Linked DNA regions of Homo sapiens. The protein of the gene in region 5 interacts with the protein of the main gene of each other region in a pairwise test. Each region holds a gene or a part of one and is shown on either strand. Other genes may lie near its edges.

Region 1 (3,500 bases), on a different chromosome or scaffold from region 5:
GGTATGAGGAATTGCTGAAGGTTTTCCCACAGTCACTGCATTCGTAGGGTTTCTCCCCATTGTGGATTCTCTTATGAACAGTAAGGTAAGATCTGCTGCTGAAGGTTTTCCCACAGTCATTGCATTCATAGGGTTTCTCCCCATTGTGGATTCTCTTATGAACAGCAAGGTAAGATCTACTGCTGTAGGATTTCCCACATTCACTGCAGCCATAGGGTCTTTCTCCAGTATGAATCTTCCTGTGCCGTGTAAGGGAAGATTTTGTGCTGAAGACTTTAAAACACTGATTACATTCGTTGAGTGTTGCTCCAAGATGATTCCTCTCCTATTGATTAAGAGATGACAATAAGTACCATTTATAATATTTTTAACATTGAATGCTGTCAGAGGAATTTCCTCTCCCAGGAATTCTGTTGTGTATCATAGTATTGGAATTAATGTTTTTGCCATCATGAGTGCTGGTACATGGCTTCTGTCAGTTTGAATTCTTAGCATTTAAAGAAGATGGATTCTTTCTACAAATCTTTATCATATTCACAGAGTATTTTTGATAAATTTAAGGCTAATTTCTTTTTCAAATATCCAATATCTGACTCAGACTACTGGAAATATTTACTTGTGGGAATTCTCAGGAAAAACAAGTTTGGGGCTAACTAATGCTTTTCTCCAAATTCAAAATAATTTCACAGTATCTCTCCAGAGGTACTACTTTATCTTTGAAAAAAATGACACTTTCCTTTAATAACTATTTAATAAAGCCACTTTTTTTTTTTTTTTTTTTGAGACAGAGTCTTGCTCTGTCGCCAGGCTGGAGTGCAGTGGCACAATCTCGGCTCACTGCAAGCTCCACCTCCAGGGTTCAAGTGATTCTTCTGTTTCAGCTTCCCAAGTATTTGGGATTACAGGTGCGCATCACCACACCCAGCTAAGTTTTTTTTGTATTTTTAGTAGAGATGGGGTTTCACCGTATTGGCCAGGCTGGTCTCCAACTCCTGACCTGACCTCATGATCCAACTGCCTCAGCTTCCCAAGGTGCTGGGATTAAAGGCATGAGCCACTGTGCCTGGCCAACAAGGCCAGTCCTTGTGGCTTTTCTCATGTAGGGCATTCTACCATGAAAAAAACCAGGAATCACCCATGTTAGTCTTACCATTTTCATATTTCTAGATTGTTCTTTTCGAAAAACATGCAGCTTAGGAGTTAACCCTTTGGCTTTAAATGGATTCTCCACATCTGAAACAAGTTAAAAAGAAATTTAAGTTGATAGAAAAGAGGCAAATTTTAAGTTGATGGTGAAATAGTAAAATGCATACGTGAGTGAAGGCAGAATCTGAGAGGTGAGGGTTTTTGAGAAGGCATTCGGTGAAAGAGATATGGGTGTGAAAATTTTAGGCAATGTTTAAGAAAGACTCTAGGAAGATTGAGATTGATGTTGACAGAATGAAGGAATTGTCAGGAAGGCAAGGTGGACTGAAACTGATCAAAGAGCTCATAGGAGACTTAAATTTCAGAAAAAGAGATGTCTTTTTTTCTCCCCTGAGGCCCAAGTAAAGTATGAGATGACAGAAAGTTGGAAGTCATGAAGGTACATGAGGGGGCTCAGACCAAACGTTCTTGGCCTTCTTGGGAAAAGGGGCATTTACACAGTTCTCTGACTGATATTTCCTAATGTATTATAATACTCCCAACTTCTCAGTCCCTGGCCAGAGCTGTTCCTCACAAGGACTTATATCCACCTGGTGCTCACCTGGACAGGTACCTGAGAGAATTCCTCTCTCTTCTGTCATCACTTTATCTTCTTGCTCCAGCTGGGAGATCAGCCTAGGTTTATCAACTTGGTTCCCTGTACATGGAGAAAAGACACATGATGTAGGGGGACTGTGCAGCAGACAAGCTCTCCCATGAAACTGAAATCAGTTCTGAAGGTGAAGAGGTGTGACTTCAGGAGCAGAGAAATAATTATGCCAAAATTGAATAAATATAGCAACCGTCTTAAACACTCACACACACACACACACACACACACACACACACACACACACACACACACACCCCACAAGCAATATCTAGGGTGGTTGCAGGATAACTGGTCCCAGGAGCCCCTGTCCAGGTTTAAATACAGAATCTGAAAGCCCAAAAGATTTAACTACAGAGAATATATAGTCAGGGAAAGAAGGAGATCTTCATTTCATACAGATAGCATTAGACAGACAGCTCCATGAGGGTGGGGGGCATGTCTGTTGCATTCTTCACTACTCCCACATCCCAGCACAGACCTAGGAACAGAGGTGCTTATGAAGGACTTAAACGAAGTAATGTCAGTGAAGGTAGTGGAGTAGGGAACTCCACAACTCCATCCCTTCACAAAAACAGTATGTAAATGGGCAAACACAGAATCAACTTCATTGGAGCTCTTGAATGTCATCAAAAGTTTACAGCCACAGGAGAATGCCTAATCAAGACAAACAGCTGAATCTGGGTAAGAGAGATTTGTGACATTTTAACTGACTCTAGCTGCACACTCTATTCCCCATTTTGCCTTGAGGACAACAACCTGTGTTTCTAGTGCTGAAGGGAACAGAATGCACCTTATTCTCAAAAACCTGTGGCTGTTCTCTTCTGACCTGTCTGCTGGCTCCCTGATGGGCTGGATCAAAGGGCTTCCCTTTATTTGTGTAACTCCAAACTCTCCCAGGTCTGAAGAGGCTACACCTATGGAAGCTGGAGGGTGGAGAGGGAAGTGTGTCCCAACACATCTAAAGGCAAATCAGCCACTGCTCAATGGGGCAAGGGAAAACTGTGAAGCAAACAAAAGACTAACCAAAAAACCTGGGAGGAGAAGTTGGGAACAAGATGCTCTGAGGAGTAGAGCATCTTTCCACACCTTCTTTTCCCCCACAAGATGGAGTCTTGCTCTGTCGCCCAGGCTAGAGTGCAGTGGTGTGATCTCGGCTCACTGCAACCTCCACCTCCTGGGTTCAAGCAATTCTCCTGCCTCAGCCTCCCAAGTAGCTGGGATTACAAGCATTTGCCACCACGCCTGGCTGATTTTTTTGTATTTTTAGTAAAGATGTGGTTTCACCATCTTGGCCAGGCTGGTCTCCAACTCCTGACCTCAGGTGATCCGCCCACCTCAGCCTCCCAAAGTGCTGGGATTACAGGCATGAGCCACTGCGCCCGGCCTCCACACATTTCTAGAAGGCCATGCTCATACCCAGGGATGAACACATGCTCAGAGAAGATCTGAGAAGGCACCAAGCCCTCACCTTTGACTGACCTTCAGGCTCTGCATAAGAAGGAACTGAAGGCTAAGTCAGAGTTGTAAGATGCTTTAGCTGAGTTTTGAAGGCATGCTCCAACATGTAATTCAGATCCATTGGCAAAGACTGGTCATCTTTTGGGTTCCAGGTATTTAAAAAAATCTCTGACAAATTAATCCCAAGCTGAACACTAAGCTAACAGAACAGAGACTTCAGTGGCCACACATGACCAATACAGAC
Region 2 (2,312 bases), on a different chromosome or scaffold from region 5:
GATTGTTAGCAATGATTCATACTAAGTATCTAATGGTATTTTTGGAATGTCAGCAGTGAGTATTTTGACAAAGCACTATTTTAAATAGTTCTTATCAGTTCATGCCCTTTTATTTGAAGTCAGTGAGTGATAAGTGTAGAAAAGTTTAATTCTGTAGACATTATAACCTTTCACTGATAGTTCTGACTGAGTTCTGTAGCCCCTAGTTTTTGGTGAAGATTCATATGAGATAGGAATATTAAGGAAAAGTTTGTAATATAAAATCTTATGATTTAAATAAATTTCAACTCAGTTTTTTTTAAATTGAGTATCATGTTGTCATATTGGTGAAATAAAAGGGCTATGTTGAGTAAATTTCTCATTATATATATTTCTCATATGTAAACTATATGCTGCTCAGTTATATGTTGCTCCTAGCCAAACCTCATGGTGTAGTGTAGTTTAATCATGAATCAGAAACTTCATCCAGTCTGTCTACAGATTTGTACACATGGGCAGTTAGCTAAGGTACATGTTAGAGATAGGAAAATTGAAAAACGCAATATAAAATAATGTGGTTTTTAGGGAACATTTTTTAAAATGGAAAATTGGAGGATTTATTATTTTGTCCAAGACTACATCATTGATACCGGGCAGAATTGTAATGAGACATTAATGGTACAACCTTAAGATACAACCCAAGAAAGTAGATATAGTTCATTTCCCTCTTTAACTAATTTTTTTTCTTTTAGCTAACCAGTTACCAGCTGGCTTAATAACCACAGACGGTCAACAACAAAATGTTATGGTTTACACAACATCATATCAACAGGTACAGTCCTTTGTATTTTAAATGCTTAAAAAATTTGATTGTATCGACAGGGCCCCATGGCTCATGCCTGTAATCCCAGCACCTTGGGAGGCCGAGGTGGGTGGATCACCTGAGGTCAGGAGTTCAAGACCAGCCTGGCCAACATGGTGAAACCCTGTCTCTACTAAAAATACAAAAATTAGCTGGGCGTCATGGCGTGTACCTGTAATCCCCTCTGCTTGGAGGCTGAGGCAGGAGAATCACTTGAACCCTGGAGGTGGAGGTTGCAGTGAGCTGAGATCACACCACTGCACTCCAGCCTGGGCAATAGAGTGAGACTCTGTCTCAAAAAAAAAATTTTTTTTTTATTATATCTATTGATATAGTTAATTTCAACATGCTATTAAGGACCTGATAAAGAAGGTTATTAAAATTGTGTTTTCTCAATGTAGATAACAGTATATAGTGTTCTCTTAATAGTTAAAAATAAGCATATGTTCATATTTGCATAGGAGATTTCTAGAAAGATACACAAGAAATGGGAATTAGACTTGTTATTGTCTTTTTATTCACTGAATTTTTATAATATGCATATGGTACTTTTAATCTCCTTTTCTTTAATTCTGCTCAATTTAAATTTTCTAATCTTAGATTTCTGGTGTTCAGCAAATTCAGTTTTCATGATCTGAAGAAATGATGGAATGGGGAGTGTAGAGAAATGAGAGTCTGTATGATTCTGGAACAGAGACATCAGAAGGAAAGACTGGTGAAAAGATGTATCTTTGTATATTAATAGCTGTAATGTAGCTTCCTGATGCTTGACTAATTGAGGTGTTAATTCTGACTTGAGAATCTTTTTCATGAATGATTTTAAAGAAAAATTTGGATTTTAAAGGTATTAAAATATTTTTGTTTTGTACGAGAGTTTGTTGCTCTGTATGACTCCTGTATGCATTGTATATTGCAATTTATTACTGTCAGAGATTTGTAGACAGTTTCTTATTTTCATATTGAATCATGTTACTTTTGTAATTCAAGTAAGCGGCTGGGTTAATTCATGATGTTTGCCCTTTTAATAAAATATAAGGGTAGAGTTCATTTTGAATGCAAGTTGCCTTTATTATAAATTTGAGTTTGTCTTGGTTATACCTTGCATGATAACCTAGCTAGATTTCTAGCATTTGCTGTATTTATTAAAATTATTATTTTTTTGGTAAAACATTAATAGTTTAAGCAGCATCATTTTTTTAAAAAATGTAATTGAATAAGTGTGAATGCAGAAGCAAATATTGTCTGCCCTGTTAAACTTGGTGCCCATTAACAGTGTTTACACTGTTCATCGTGCCTGTTAATGTAGTTTTAGTTACTGGAGCTTTTTTAAGACTAGATTTGGTTTTGAGTTACATTTTTAAGAATGTGGGAATATATTTAAGTTTAATGTAGTCCTAGTGCTCTTGAAATGGTGCCCCTTTCATTTGGTACATGATTTTTTTTCAAATCATATCTTCAAGTACTATAGTAT
Region 3 (4,211 bases), on a different chromosome or scaffold from region 5:
TTTTATTTTTTTGTAACAGGCAAGAAAATGTAAGGGTAATCTTAAAATACACAGTTAAGGCTTCACAGGAAACACATGAGTATACTACTCACAAAATCCTTGGAATAAACGCTACTTGCTCATTCAAGGGCATCATCATTCCACTCTAGATGGCCTCTTAAAGTTTTTTCTTACTCATGTAGGCAGATGTAACTGCTCTTCTATGCTTTTATGACACCTAATAATATCTTCATTATAACAAGTAGCACATTATAATTGTCTTTCTCTGTCTCCCCAGCAGCCTGTAAGAAGGTCAGAACTGGGTCTTTTCAAATATATATCCACAGTCCCTGGTATTGTAGGAATTATAAAAATGTCGCAACTAATGGGTGTCCTGCCTTGGGTTTAGCAATCATATATTATTGACTTCTCAGAATCCTGCAAGGTAAACAGTATAGATGAATTACACTCAAAGAGGTCAAGTAGTCGATGCTCTGTGAGTGGCAGGTTAATAACGGAAGTCCCACAAGGTAGGTCCACAACTTGGACCCACAAGATAATGACAGTGTGGCTGTGTAAGACTATAAACCACAGAGATGATCTCAGTAAGGATGGAAAACAGATTACGTTTTTAAAAAGGTCATCCTCATGAAAAGGAAAATGATTCCTACAGAGGAATGACAGCTCGCGAAGCTTCTTAAAGTACAACATTCAAGCACCACAGCACATGCCTAAGGGAAGCATTAGAAGAGATTAGAAGGAAAAGGCCGTGGAGACCTCAATCCCTCCTCCTCCCACCGCGGGCCTGGCCTCCACCGCCACCTCTGCCAGGCGGGCATGGAAGGGGCGACCTCTCCGATGCGCACTGCCGGGCGCGAAGCCGCCCGCGCACCCTCCCCCAGCGCGGCGCGTGCCACTGGCCCGGGAGGCCCAGGCGTGGGCAGCCGGGTACCTAGCTCGGCCACGGTAGCCGCGCAGCCGGACAGTAGGAATTTGCTCGCTCGGGGCCATCTCTGGGTCAGCGGCAAAAGCCTCTCCTCCTCCTCCGGGACGGACATTCAGCAGTAGCGCAAGACGATAACGCACTCCTTCTCGCCGCTGCGCTGCACCGCGCCGCGGCGGCCGCTTCCCTGCCAGGGCGGCCCCTTTTCAACCGGCGAGTGGCCGGGTGAGGACCATTTCCCTCGTTCGGCTCGGCCGGGTGGACCCGCAACCTTCCTAGCAGTCCCAGCTGGAGTGGTCCAGCTGCCCCTTACACCCCAGAATAGAAAAACACAGCGGAGCCCAGGAGGTTACTGGGCAATGTAGTCCGCCGGGCTCCGCTACGTCTCTGATTGGCCGGCCGCGGGTCCCTCTGCGGCTCCGCCCCCGGCCTCCATGGCAACGCGGCTGGTTCTCGCCCGTCAGTCCTAGCCCGGCCCTGCCCCTCCTTGCATTTTTTCCGCGCTGGCTGAGATTCAAAGAGAAGTGGAGGTGGGAGGGAGCGACAATGGAAAAATCACCTGAAAACTGGGACAGAGGAAGGAAGCTACAGTTACGAAGGAGAGCTGCAAAAGTTGCAGCAGAAAGGTTGGGAGTCCCGACAGGTTCCGTAGCCCACAGAAAAGAAGCAAGGGACGGCAGGACTGTTTCACACTTTTCTGCTTCTGGAAGGTGCTGGACAAAAACATGGAACTAATTTCCCCAACAGTGATTATAATCCTGGGTTGCCTTGCTCTGTTCTTACTCCTTCAGCGGAAGAATTTGCGTAGACCCCCGTGCATCAAGGGCTGGATTCCTTGGATTGGAGTTGGATTTGAGTTTGGGAAAGCCCCTCTAGAATTTATAGAGAAAGCAAGAATCAAGGTATGTGGTCGTGGCAGACGGGGTCTCCAGAGGAGACAATGCTTTCTTTTTTAAACTTTCTTTCATTGACTCTTAAGTGCAGGGCTAGAACACGGGGAACATACCTGCTTGCCTCAACTAAAGGATCTAGTCATTTCTGAATTCCTCTACTAACAATTAACAACAATATCCTGTGCAAAATTTTGCGAAAGAAATGAAATACAATTGCAGCGTGCATCGACATTTTTGGAAGTAGAGATTAACTTTTCGTATTTTTACTTCATCGAAGTTAAGTTCCAAATGTGTATGTGTTAAGTAAATGTTTTCAGTAATTGGGAAAGATAAAGTGTAATCCAATTTAAGTTTGTGAAAATGAGTAATTCGTATCCAAATTGGAGTTAACACCAAAGTATTGTACAAATTGCTTGCACAGTTGGTCCGTACACAATAAACAGGCTCTGTATTTTTAGCTGACGTTGTTATTTGATGATGATGTACTCCATTTTCACTACGGCCTGAAGAGACTAGTAATCCTCCTTGTAGTAGATGTTTTTGTCTTGAAAGTATCTTTTAAATGTCTGAGCACTTTAAGGAACAGACCTTTATTAATGTCTTTTAAGTTTTATTCAATTTCCAGTCACAAATATTTTATGGTATTTGATTGTCTAATAAATTTGTATGATATTATAATTATTCTTATGAATTATAATACTTTCTGTGGTGACCCATTTTCCATCTGGTTAGCCCAATTTGTAGAATGAATTTATACGTAGTAGCATTATTTTACCACTGATCATTTGCCTTCAAAATCTCTGAGATTCCAATTTAGTAAAAAACATATAGAAAATTAAAGAGAACTAAGATGAAAATAAAAATAACCCAGAATATCACACCAGCTGTACTGTAAAAATTTAGTGTATTTATATTATTTTGGTCATTTTCCTATGTATTTACAACTATTTAATGAACAACAATGGAATAATAGTATAATACTCTTTTATGTGCTTTTGATTTTAACATATAATGTGAATGACTTTCCTGTACCATGAAATACTTTGAATCTTCCTTTTATGGCTATATTTTGTCATAGGAGGATACAATAGTTTACTTAAATCTCAATAGTTGGGTTTATAGGTTGCTGCCAAACTTTTTTCTTTCAGCCAGTGCTTCAGTGAACATTCTTGCGTGTTTGTGTGCATGTATTGATTGTGTGGTTGTACATTTTGCAATTATCTGATTGTTTACTCAGAATAAATTCCTAGGAGTAGAATTGCTGAGTCAAAGGACATGCACACTTAAATTGTTTATATGAATGTGTTACTTTTGGAAAAAGAAGTATGAATATGCAATTTTTATTTTCCATTGACTGTATGCAATTGCCTAACTTCTCAAATCCTGGGCCATACTGAATACCATAATTCTTTGCAATTTTTGCTAGTCTGATAGATGAAACATTATATCTCCTAAAGAAATACTCCTTTGTCTCCCACAGCCTTCCTTATGCATATGATCTTGATAATTTTTAAGGAACTGTTTTTTTACAAGCTTGTGTCAGAAGGCTAAATATTTGTGAGGTCTCTATTGCTTTCCTGACTAAACAAAACAAGTTATTGCTGGACTCTGTGTCTCACACCTGTAATCCCAACACTTTGGGAGGCAGGGGTGGGAGGATTGCTTGAGGCCAGGAATTTAAGACCAGCCCGGGAGATATAGCAAGACCTCATTTCTACAAAAACTAAATAGAAAAATAAAAAATTTAATCTGGTCCAGTGGCACATGCCTGTAGTCCCAGCTCCTCGAGAGGCTGAGGCGGGAGGATTGCTTGAGCTCAGGAGTTCCAGATTCCGGTAAGCTATGATTGAGCCACTGCACTCGAGCCTGGGCAACAGAGCGAGACCTTGTCTCTTAAAAAAAAAAAAAAAAAAAAAAAAAAAAAAAAAAAGAATATGACTGCATTATTTGATGTTTTACTACTAAAAGCTTTTAAGGTTCACTCTTGTCTTTTCTTGTACCCTTAATCTGGGCAGTATGATAAAAAAAAAAGCCAGAGTGCTCCCACCTTTGGTGCCAGGGGAGATTCAAATCACACAAACCTCAACCTTCATGCAGGAAGGCTCACACCAGCCTACCCCCTAACCACAATGAAACCCTAAGACCTGTCTCTTTTCACTGTTTTCTCAAGTCATTTTCAGATCAGCTTGAGAGGACTGCCCTTCTTTCCCCAGAGAAGTCTCATTGTGTATGAAATAAACCTCTTCATACCCTCTCAAGGTGTGTATGTGTGTATGTGTGTGTGTGTGTGTGTGTGTGTGTGTAAATGTAGTAATTGTCTTAACATCCAAACCAGATCTTGGGTGGGGGTCCATTCTGAGTTTTCGCAGTGGCTGCAACAGGTACTCAGTAGACTT
Region 4 (3,945 bases), on a different chromosome or scaffold from region 5:
AAAAAAATAAATAAAACAAAAAACAATGTCCAACAAAAAAACAAATCCAGCGAGGCCAGACAGGATAGGGGCTCCCTGGGGTCCGCCCATTTTCGGGATCAGGTGACTCGAGGTTTGGTCCTTATTTTAGTGCAGGCTCAGATGTCGGGGGCGAGCCAAAGTGCAGGGGCCTGTGGGAAGGACAGGAGGCTGGGAAACGTTTGGGTAAAAAAATCAGGACACTGGCCGTGCGCGGTGGCTCACGCCTGTAATCCCAGCACTTTGGGAGGCCGAGGCGGGCCGATCACGAGGTCAGGAGATCGAGACCATCCTGGCTAACACGGTGAAACCTCGTCTCTACTAAAAATACAAAAAAATTAGCCGGCGTGGTGGCGGGTGCCTGTGTCCCAGCTACTCGGGAGGCTGAGGTAGGAGAATGGCCTGAACCCGGGAGGCGGAGCTTGCAGTGAGCCGAGATGGCGCCACTGCACTCCAGCCTGGGCGACAGAGCGAGACTCCACCTCAAAAAAAAAAAAAAAAAAAAAAAAAAAAATCAGGACACTGACAGCACGTGCTCCAGCACGGGGCAGGGCCTCCATGGGGTCCGCGCCCACGCGGGGCAGCGCGGTGACGTCACGGCTGAGGACCCCGCCCCACGAAGGGCTCACCCCACGCGACCCACGCCGCTCGCTCGCCCCTCCCCTCCACGCAGCACTCCGGCTGCTCCGTGGGGAAACTGAGTCTGGACTTCTCGTGCCCGTTCGGGAGAAGGACGCGGGAGGCGCGGCCGAGCTGCGGGGAGAGGTTGGGCTCACCCCGGGCCAGAGCGAGTTCGCGCAAACGGGAGTGTCCACCGCTGGCGGGTCAGCCACTAGCGTTGGCTACGCGCCGGTCACTCGGGCGACAGGAGGCGGGGCGGCGCGGAAGTTATCTTCCAATCAGGTGCTCCGGGGGCGGGTCCGGAAAACTGTCCAATCAAGGCACGGGGCGGACACCGGGAAGCGGATTGCAGGTTTGCAGTAGTGTCCAATCGAAGGCCCCAGGGGTGAAGGGGGCGTGTCCAAAACGCTGTCCGCTCAGAGCGTTGAAAGGGCGGGGGCTTAGAGATTGTCCAATCAGGGCGCCGCTTCCTGAGCTCCGAGGCCCCGAGGGCGGGACGTTTCGTCCTCCCTGCCGCGCGTGCCCTGCCTACCACGAGCGGCCCGGGAGTACCTGTACCTTTCAGCTGCGCCGGCCGCGAGGCCACGGAGAGCTCGCCTTGGAGAGCCCAGGAGCAGGGGAGACATGGTGAGTGCGAGGCAGGAGCAGAGCCAGGGGACGGTCGGAGCGACGGGAACCGGCTGGAACCAGAGTCCGCCGAAGTCTGCGGCCGGGATTGGCTGAGGGACGCGCGGGGCGGCGCAGGACTAGCACCTGGGACCCGGGGACGCCATCACAGCGGCCGGGCTGGAGGACTGGGGGCAGTTTGGGGGGACGGAAGGGGCGGCAAGGAGCTTGGGGGTAACTTAGGGGGAGGCCTGGGCAGGAGGGGGGCTGGAGGTAGTTTGGGGGGACGGTAGGGGCGGTCAGGGGTCAGGGACCAGTTTGGGGGGACGGCAAGGGACGGTCAGCAGGTTGGGGATGTTACGCGTGTCCGTATAAGAGGTCACCTGAGCAGGCTTAGTGTGAGCCACAAGGCTGTTTACTCACTTGGGTGCAAGTGGGCTGAGTCTGAGAAAGGACTCAGCAAAGGGTGATGGGATTATTATTGGTTTTATTTTTTTATTTTTTTTATTTTTGGGACGGAGTCCCGCTCTGTCGCCAGGCTGGAGTGCAGTGGCGTGATCTCGGCTCACTGCAACTTCCGCCTCCCGGGTTCAAGCGATTCTCCTGCCTCAGCCTCCGGAGTAGCTGAGATTACAGGCGCCCGCCCTCACGCCCGGCTAATTTTTGTTTTTAGTAGAGACAGGGTTTCACCATGTTGGCCAGAATGGTCTCGATCTCTTGACCTTGTGATCCGCCCGCCTCGGCCTCCCAAAGTGCTGGGATTACAGGCGTGAGCCACCGCGCCCGGCAATCATTAGTCCTTATAGGTTTGGGACAGGCATCGGAGTTAGGAGCAGTTTTTTTGAGGACAGTTGGTGGGTGTTACAAAGTACATTCTCAAGGGCGGCGACGATGTTTCAAAGTACATTCACAAGGGCTTGGGGGATGTATTGTCACAAGGGCTGGGAGGAATATTACAAAGTACCTTCACAAGGGCGCGAGCGTGTATTGTCACAAGGGCGGGGTACATTCACAAGGGCGAGGAGGACGTATCGTACAAAGTACATTCACAAGGGCGGGGGAATATCACAAAGTACATTATCACAAGGGCGGGGGGCTTGACCATGGTGCGGCCAGCTCAGAGAACCTTACAGGGGACAGCTTGGGGGGATGGCAAGGGACGGCCTGGGGGTCAGAGGCAGTTTGGGGGACGACCTCAGCGGTGGGAGTTAGCTGCCCTGGGGGTTTTGTTGCAGGGTATCACTAATGCTGTGAAAGCTTTATTCGGGCAGCCGGTGTCAGTAAATGTACTGTACTGTTCTCCTGTTTGGCTTTTTTCTTCTCCTTAGTGACAATAGGAAAATGTTCAAGTGTGTTTTCTGCCTTCTGGTCCGTCAGGATAACACCTGTTTATCGTGGGGTACAGGCTAAGCATGGCCTAAGGAAGTCTCTCAGGAATATTCTGTCTCCCACCAGAATTGTAGAGAAAGTGTGCGCAGTTCCACATCTTATAGCAGCTAGAGATGGATTAAAATGTTCATAAAAATAGTAGTTTTTCAAATGCCAAAGCAATCAGACAAAAAATAATAGTTATTCTTCCATACAAGGTGCAGAGTTTGCGACAGTGTGTGATCGTGTTCCATTTCAGTTCAGCTAGACATGAGATTAATGCAAATTCTGCAAAAACCTGTAAAACTGAGGCGTGTTCCATTCTGGTTAGTTTCCAGTTTGTCACCAGGAGTATTGCTTCACTGATCCATCATCTGTTTGCTGACTGGGAAAAGCAGTTTCTGGCCATGTAAAGTCATAAAGACTGCCTTGGAACTCCCTTCCCCCACTTACACAAGGGGTGGAAAGCACTGATTCTGCTGCATTCTCACTCTACGGGATGAGGGTCTTTGTGGCATTTAAAGTGTAGCACCTGGAGCAGGGAGGTGAGCCCCAAGACCGGTGACTCCAGCTGAGCCCACAGTTGAGCCTGCACTGGAGGCCGCTGAGGGTGCAGCGGGGTCTGGCTGGGCAGCCTCCACTTGCTCAGTCCTCCTGCCTCGTAGAACAGCCGCAGCGGGAACTGTTCATGCTGATTGAGGCTGCTGAGCATGGGAAAGACGATTGTCCTGGAGATGTGCTTGTGGGCGTTTTAGCCTTTCTGAGGTTGCACCTGTGCTGTCTTGGAGCCGTTTCTAAGCAGTGGGTTTAGTTTATGCTTTAAGTGTTGTTTTTCTTTTTTGGAGACACTGTGTCTCCCAGGCTGGAGTACAGTGGCGTGATCTCCACACATTGTATCATCCGCCTCCCGGGTTCAAGCAATTCTCCTGCCTCAGCCTCCCGAGTAGCTGGGATTACAGGCACTTGCCACCACGACCGGCTAATTTTTATATTTTTAGTAGAGACGGGGTTTCGCCATGTTGGCCAGGCTGGTCTCAAACTCCTGACCTTAAGTGATCCACCCTCCTCCGCCTCCCAAAGTGCTGGGATTTCAGGCGTGAGCCACCGCGCCCGGCCTGGATTAAGTTTTAATATAAACACCAGTGGCCTTACTGCCCGCATAAATAGGCCTCCGGCCTCTCTTCAACACCTGTGTGCTGCTCCCAGCGCTCATCTCTGTTCTGCCCCCAGGGTAACCACTGTCCTGATTTTTTTTTTCATTCTCTCTACCTTTACCATTTATTATTTATCACCATACAGAGTTTTAATTTTGCCTCCTTTGAATTTTTTTTT
Region 5 (3,500 bases):
AATGAAATCACCTCATGATGTCCTTAAGGGATGCACATCTCTACTTCCTTAGGCTCCAGAAACAATGGTTACCAAGTTTTACATGATTTCCTTTGCTCTAGAGCTGTTTTGATTAGTAGCTTTAGTTCTGTATACTTGTTTTTGTTAATGGAGAAAGGTGAACCTGCTTCATGGCTTATCTTACCTTTTTCCTCTCATTAAGGAATGGCTTCTGGTTTTTCCGTGTTGTGCCTGGAAAAGAAAATGAAGTATGTAAGTTGTAGAAAGAGTAAATGGCAATGAAATTATAACCTGAAATCACTTTTTTTTTTTTTTTTTTTTTTTTAAGATGGAGTTTTGCTCTTGTTGCCCAGGCTGGAGTGCAATGGTGTGATCTTGGCTCACCACAACCTCCGCCTCCCAGGTGCAAGCGATTCTCCTGCCTCAGCCTCCTTAATAGCTTGGATTACAGACCACGCCTGGCTAATTTTTGTATTTTTAGTAGAGATGGGGTTTCACCATGTTAGTCAGGCTGGTCTCAAACTCCTGACCTCAGGTGATCTACCCGCCTCAGCCTCCTTAAGTGCTGGGATTACAGGCGTGAGCCGCTGTCCCCGGCCTGAAATCACTTATATTGTCCTTCTGCCGTTGCATGCATTTTTAATTTGATGGAGGTAGAACAGGTTGGTTGACAATTGGGTATGAGTTATGTGTATTTCCCGTTTGCTTTGGTGAGTGCAGCACATAAAATTCCATTGTTATGATTGTATTTGTAAACCTTCTCACTCCCTAGTGTAGTGCTCTAAGTCTAATCTTTTTTATATCCCCAGGGCCTACCACATGGGAGATGTTAATCATTCAAGGATTAATATTTTGGGGAACTTGAAGTCGCTGTATGTTTGTCTTTGGTTTTCTCAAGTTCCAAGTTGCCTGCAGCTTCCATATCAAGAGTTACTTCTGGCAAACTCTAATGATAGTTTCTTCTGTAGGGTAAAGAGAATAGCTCATCTGGCATTAAGGCTGAGAATGAGGCTTAGTGCCTCCCAGGAGGAAGGAGGATGACTTGGAAGTAGACGTGTCATCCCTTTCAGTCCTGGTGGATTGTGGGCAGCGGGGGGACAGAGGTAGGGAAAACAGATTGTGAGAAATATGTGTTCTGATCTTTCTTGGCTGGCTAAAGTTCTAGGGTTAGGGTGGGGATGTTAAATGGGTTGAGGGGACGGTCAGCAGTAGAAGGCCTTTTGCTCTGCTCCTTATGTGGAATCTTGAGAGGAGATGTTATGCAGGTTAGTGATAGGCCAACACGGGCCTATAGCACAGCAGTGGTAGAAGGAAGTGGCTAGATAGTTGAGTTTGTGGTACCAGGGGATTCTGAAATGCTCTCATACCACTGTGAAGGAGGTGGAGGAGCTTATTGGCCTGGTGGAACAGCTGGCGTCATGACAAAAGACTGTGTGACTATAGACTGAATGTCAGGATCACAGACTCCAGGGATGAGAGCCAGCATGACATCCTAAAAGATGAGATGGGACCAGTTCAGCCATAGGACCTGATTACCTCCTTGCAGCAGAGACCAGTGAGGATCCAGAGAAACAACACAGATCCAAGGTCTTCTTGCCACTATTTCTTCTAGGATGTCCGATAAGACCTTGGAGGGAAATCTACCCGAAAGCAGCCATTTAAACCAGCCCGGGTAAGGAGTTAAACAAAGTCTGAGTATTAACTGGAAGAGATTGAGATATTGTTTGACAAGTTTTAAATTTCCTGGATATTTATTAGAGTAGATATTCATGAGGAATATTAGATTAATTATAGAAAAAATGGCGCATATTCAGGAGACAGATTAGATGAGTTATAGAAGATAAAGCAGGCTGGGCATGGTGGCTCATGCCTGTAGTCCCAGCACTTTGGGAGGTCGAGGCAGGTGGATCGCTTGAGCCCATAAGTTCAAGATGAGCCTGTGCGACATGGCAAAACCCTGTCTCTACTAAAAATACAAATAATTACCTGGGTGCATGCCTGTAGTCCCAGCTACTCAGAAGGCTGAGGTGGGAGAATCAATTGAGCCCAGGAGGTGGAGGTTGCAGTGAGTGGTGATCACGCCACTGCACTCCAGCCTGGGTGACAGAGTGAGACCCTGTCTCAAAAAAAAAGAAAAAAAAAAAGGCAGCTGCATTTGAGTTGCAGTGTGAGTAAATGTGACCAGGCAATAAAGGGTAATAACTCACTGTGTTTGGTGAGATGATGGAATGTCTCTTGGCCAAGGACTGAACCTGGGGTGGAGATGGAAGGGAACATCTTCATATATGAGGGTAAGAAGAAGAGGTGCCAGAAAAGGCAACAGCAGTGGTGATTGAAAAGTTTAAGGACCGCTAGGGAAGTGGTTGCTAAGTGACTCAGCCTTAGGAGAGATTGGAAATAGTCTTCTAGGAGAGAAGCATAAATTGCCTCGTGAAATGTAGGATTGTTGAAAAGTGCTGAGGGTCTACTTAAAACTTGTGTTTGTTTATTTAAAGTGGGAACAGTTAGTTGGGTCATGTTTCCTTTCTCTCCCAATTGCCAGCTGCTTGGCTATGAGAACTGGATTTACCTAGGATTGCTAGGTTAGCATGATGGACGGAGAGAGGGGACGGGAAGTTGAAGTTGTAGGCAAGGGAGGGTGTAATTGTGGATCATGGTTTCTCAGGTAGGGAATGAGGTCGTAAGGAAGGTGATGGCCAGTGAAATGTGGCCGAATCAATGGATTAGAGGTCCTCATGTGGTCAGAGAAATGGTGAGTGGTCAGATAATGGGTTGACTTGATATGTACATGCTTAGAAGTAGTGTGTGTCTTGATACAACAGGTACGGGGTGTGGCAGAATGTGGCCAAGGTAGGGAGTAAGAAAAGATTTTTGGTCAGGAAACCCAAAGGCTGAGGTTAGTTGAATTATCTAAATAATGAAGTTACTAAGAATGTTAGACATTGGCATGAATAGTTTCAGCAAAGGCAGAATTCTCACATTGGCTAAAATAACCCAAGGTTTAAGGGTCAGTAGAGTAGAAGAGGCTAGTGGAGACAAGGAAGCACTTACCTCTGTGAAAATAATGTAAAAAGACGTTACTGGGTTTACGGCTGATTTTGTAAAATATGGTTAGCACCAGGCGTAAGTGAATTGCTGCAGTGTTACAGACTCTTCCTTGGAGGCCCTGAAGGTCAAGCAACTAGCAAAATCATTTCAAAGAGCAGAACCTTGAACGATGGCTTGAAGTAGGATTTGCAACTTCCTGGGCAGTGGCTAATGGGTCTAGGATTTGAAATAAGGTGGAAGAATTGATAATAATGTGGTTTGGGAAAGGACTTTATGGATGTGACTACATTTTTCTTTTTAAGTGGGAGTCATAATTCCTGTTTCTTCTACTGCTTCCTTTTCTTCTGTAACGAGGTTTGGGAAAGGGCTTTATGGCTGAGCCCTGGTGAAAACATTTGGTCCATGTGAATGCCACAGCAGAGGGCGTTCTTAATCAGACAGGATGACCTGCT
Region 6 (3,500 bases), about 210 Mb from region 5:
CCTTTTTTATCAATTTATGGCAGATTAATTTAACAACAGATTGTCACCATTTTAATTATGTTCTTCTACATCTCTATCATTGTGATTTATTGGCCTACAGCAACAGTAACCTTCCTAGAAAGTTTGCATTTATTGAGGACCCGTCATGTGTCAGGCACATTCTGAGCACTATATATGTATTAATTCATCTAATCCTTGATGAAGCTAGGAAATATGTGTTATTACTATTATCTCTATTTTACAGGAGAATTGGGAAACAGAAAGGTAAACTAATTTGTCTTAACAATTCACATAACTAGAAGCTAGTGGAGCAGGAATTTGCTATTAGACAGTCTGCCTCAAGAGCCTGTGCTCTTCAGTGCTACACTCTACTGTTTGTCCACATAATGATGTCATCTTTCCAGGCCTATCATAGGCTACCTTTGCAAACTGGTCTCTGACTCCCCCCAAGATAATATTCGTCATCCCTTCTCTGTGGCCCTACAGCACTCTGAAAATATATCTAGCCCAGCATTTATCACATAAATAATAGACAGACAGATAGTATCTATCTCCTTGTCTGTTGTCCCACTAGACTGGGAATTCCTTAAGGAAAGGCACTGTCTCTTCAACTCTGAAACCGAAGTACCACACAGAATACCCAGCACTTCATTGAATGCTTACTGAATGTTTGCTGGATGAATAAGTTACTACTATCACGGACATAATTATACTTTAGCAACAAAATACCATCAGGCTAGCAAGCTAATTATAAGGCATACTGCTTCTAGAACATTCTAGCCTCCAGCCAACCTTCCACAAGAGACTGCCTTCTTTTTCTCCTTTGGACCTTCCCTGGATGGCAGTCTCTTTCCCATTCCGTCCATCCCATCCCACTCTACCTGTGATGTCTTCTCCTAATGCCAGGGCTATCCTTTCTCCCTTTCCAAACAGATATCTAGGGGAATGGCACTGTGCCTAAGCCAACAAATAATGATAATGATAATAAAATTAATAGCTAATACTTGTTTAGTGTTTATTATGAGCCACCCATGGTTCTCAGCATTTTCTATACAGTAACTTATTACTCCAAGTTCCATCACAGATGGACTCTAGGGCATCAAAGGGCTGTTACCTGCCTGGTCAGCATGAAGCCAAAGGATGCAAGGGTTAGAGAACTTCAGAGGACCTCCAAGGGGACCACCACCTTCTTCCGTATGTTGACGATGGAGAAATTCACTATGAGAGATTCCTGTTTCTTCAAAAACTTGCAAGCTCCTAAGTAATTTAAAAGGGGAGGGAGGGGGCACACCCATAAAAACCAATAGAAAATATTCATTCTCAAGTAAAACAAGGAGAAAGGCTGTTTATTACAGAAAGCCTCTTTCTTGAAAGCCAGTCACGACAGTGTGCACATCTGTAGTCCCAGCTACTCAGGAGGCCAAACTGGGAGGACTGCTTGAGCTCAGGAGTTCAAGACCAACCTAAGCAGCAACAGACCCTGTCTCTTCAAAAAGGGGGCATGCAGAAAGGCTTATTCTCATTTTCACTGCATTAAGTTCCAAAAGACATGAAGGTCTAGGGTTACTCCAGTCCTACAGCTACTCAGAAAAGGGTACTAAAGAAAACTTTAGGTAAAGTAAGAAATAATATTATTTTTCTAAAGATATATAAATTATTCTGAAATCAGTTAAATAGGTTCAGAAACAACAGGTTTCTTCTACACAAACAGAATGGTACTCACTCACTTTCAGATAAACAGTAAAAGAGCTTGTTTGGGACACTTTGTAACAAGCCAACAAGTCTGGTCTGGCTGGCGTGCCTTTCCCACAGTACAAAAGCATGTTGTACATCCAGCTCATCAGCTTTCTTTTTAAATATGTCAAATTAATGAAGAATGCTCCTGGCTAATCCAGTGCTCTACTGGCACAAAGATCACTGAGAAAAGAACTCACATACTTATTCTTAAGCCACCATCCACTTCTGTCCGTATCTATTATGTTATGCAGCACTAGGTAATTTAACTCCCAAATCTACACTCTACCACTCTGGGTGATTGCAACTTATCAGCCTGAAAGTGATCTTTCTCTTCCTGACCCAATTCTACTTCCTGAAACCCTAACGCAAGAGTGTAGACCCCCTTGTCTTTCAGTATCACTGGTTTCTCAAAGAAGATCTATGAGAAAAAATGTAGTAATAGATATCTCACTTATCTGGAGTTAAAATACAGCCTCAAGCCAAAAGAAAGATTAAAAAAAAAGAAAGTCCTCATTCTCTAAATGAGACTCTAGAGCTCTTGCTTAGAACCTATTGACTCTTACTAAGAAAAAATTCTCAAACTCATTACTCGTTTAGACGCAGCAAAATGAGAAGTGATAAGAAAGAACTGATTAGTAAAAGGAGAGAATAAACACCAAGCTCTAGAATCATGTAATAAAACAATATAAAAATGAATGTTTATCATAATGTTCCTAGGTTTAAAAAAAATTGAATGTTTTCTATTAAAGTGTTTAAAATGTTTGGATACTGAAAAGTATAAACTTCATTAATCTAAAACATGCATTCTTAATGAGGTTATACATTGCCTTTAAGGGGGTGAAAAAACTTAGATATTACAATTTGTGCCCCACCCCCCTGCCGTGCAAAGGACAACCCTACCTGAAGAAATCCTTTTCTTGGCTGAGTACTGTGGCTCATGACTATAATCCCAGCACTTCGGTAGGCTGAGGCAGGAGGATCGCTTGAGCCTAGGAGTTTGGAACCAGCCTGGGCAACACAGCAAAACATCTCTAAAAAAAATTAAAAATTTAAAAAACTAGCCAGGTATAGTAGTGCACACCCGTAGTCCCAGCTACTCAGGAGGCCGAGGCAGGAGGACATCTGAGCCCAGGAGGTCAAGGCTGCAGTGAGCCATGATTGTGCCACTGTACTCCAGCCTGGGCAACAAAGTAAGACTCTATCTCTTAAAAAAAAAAAAAAAAAGTAATAATAATAATGAATGTTTTAAATCCTATATTCTAACATTAAGTTTCACTGAGGGGGGTAAAATTAGGAGGAAAAATATCAAATTCATTTGAGTGGAATACTTCACAACCCCTATGAATATGAGATGTTACTTTAATATTTAATCTGTATAACCATCAATAGAACAGGTCCTTCATTAGATGTTCTACTATGCTGGAAGTGGTATCACTCCTAATACTGCAGAAAAATAAACCTAACATGAGGCTGCAATTCCAAAACAACCTAAAAAAACATGACCTTGTGAGTTCATTCACTACCTCTCTTCCCTACCAGATAGTTTCCATGTGCAAAGGTGAGCTGATCTGTGAGACAGTTAATAAAATCCACCTCCCACTGGGAAAGCTGCTGGGGCAGAACACGGCATTGCATAATCAGTTATGAAACCCAAATCACAATGTAAACAAACTGCATGCCAGAAAAAATGTATATGAAAACTGTTATACAAGCAAAGATCAAATAGAAAATGAAGCAACATTATATAGGCCCTAGGGGAAAAC

What was found.
Region 1: the proteins of SMYD3 (region 5) and ZNF557 interact in a two-hybrid assay, tested with the Homo sapiens proteins (one large-scale study listed by BioGRID).
Region 2: the proteins of SMYD3 (region 5) and NFYB interact in a two-hybrid assay, tested with the Homo sapiens proteins (one large-scale study listed by BioGRID and IntAct).
Region 3: the proteins of SMYD3 (region 5) and CYP39A1 interact in a two-hybrid assay, tested with the Homo sapiens proteins (one large-scale study listed by BioGRID and IntAct).
Region 4: the proteins of SMYD3 (region 5) and ZNF57 interact in a two-hybrid assay, tested with the Homo sapiens proteins (one large-scale study listed by IntAct).
Region 6: the proteins of SMYD3 (region 5) and TRIT1 interact in a two-hybrid assay, tested with the Homo sapiens proteins (one large-scale study listed by BioGRID and IntAct).

The regions. Positions count from the first base shown.
Region 1 is NC_000019.10:7,079,703-7,083,202, reverse strand, and holds part of ZNF557 (zinc finger protein 557), read right to left. Parts: intron 1,844-3,500; coding exon 1,748-1,843; intron 1,234-1,747; coding exon 1,151-1,233; intron 326-1,150; coding exon 1-325. UniProt on the Homo sapiens protein: May be involved in transcriptional regulation.
Region 2 is NC_000012.12:104,118,899-104,121,210, reverse strand, and holds part of NFYB (nuclear transcription factor Y subunit beta), read left to right. Parts: intron 1-731; coding exon 732-811; intron 812-1,441; coding exon 1,442-1,474; coding exon of another isoform or gene 1,475-1,479; 3' UTR 1,480-2,312. UniProt on the Homo sapiens protein: Component of the sequence-specific heterotrimeric transcription factor (NF-Y) which specifically recognizes a 5'-CCAAT-3' box motif found in the promoters of its target genes.
Region 3 is NC_000006.12:46,650,019-46,654,229, reverse strand, and holds the start of CYP39A1 (24-hydroxycholesterol 7-alpha-hydroxylase), read left to right. Parts: upstream 1-1,411; 5' UTR 1,412-1,647; coding exon 1,648-1,824; intron 1,825-4,211. Other genes in the region: SLC25A27 (mitochondrial uncoupling protein 4), read right to left, coding at 932-1,037. UniProt on the Homo sapiens protein: A cytochrome P450 monooxygenase involved in neural cholesterol clearance through bile acid synthesis. Catalyzes 7-alpha hydroxylation of (24S)-hydroxycholesterol, a neural oxysterol that is metabolized to bile acids in the liver.
Region 4 is NC_000019.10:2,899,783-2,903,727, forward strand, and holds the start of ZNF57 (zinc finger protein 57), read left to right. Parts: upstream 1-1,145; 5' UTR 1,146-1,263; coding exon 1,264-1,266; intron 1,267-3,945. UniProt on the Homo sapiens protein: May be involved in transcriptional regulation.
Region 5 is NC_000001.11:246,500,780-246,504,279, reverse strand, and holds part of SMYD3 (histone-lysine N-methyltransferase SMYD3), read left to right. Parts: intron 1-3,500. UniProt on the Homo sapiens protein: Histone methyltransferase. Specifically methylates 'Lys-4' of histone H3, inducing di- and tri-methylation, but not monomethylation. Also methylates 'Lys-5' of histone H4.
Region 6 is NC_000001.11:39,849,005-39,852,504, forward strand, and holds part of TRIT1 (tRNA dimethylallyltransferase isoform 1 precursor), read right to left. Parts: intron 1,258-3,500; coding exon 1,115-1,257; intron 1-1,114. UniProt on the Homo sapiens protein: Catalyzes the transfer of a dimethylallyl group onto the adenine at position 37 of both cytosolic and mitochondrial tRNAs, leading to the formation of N6-(dimethylallyl)adenosine (i6A37).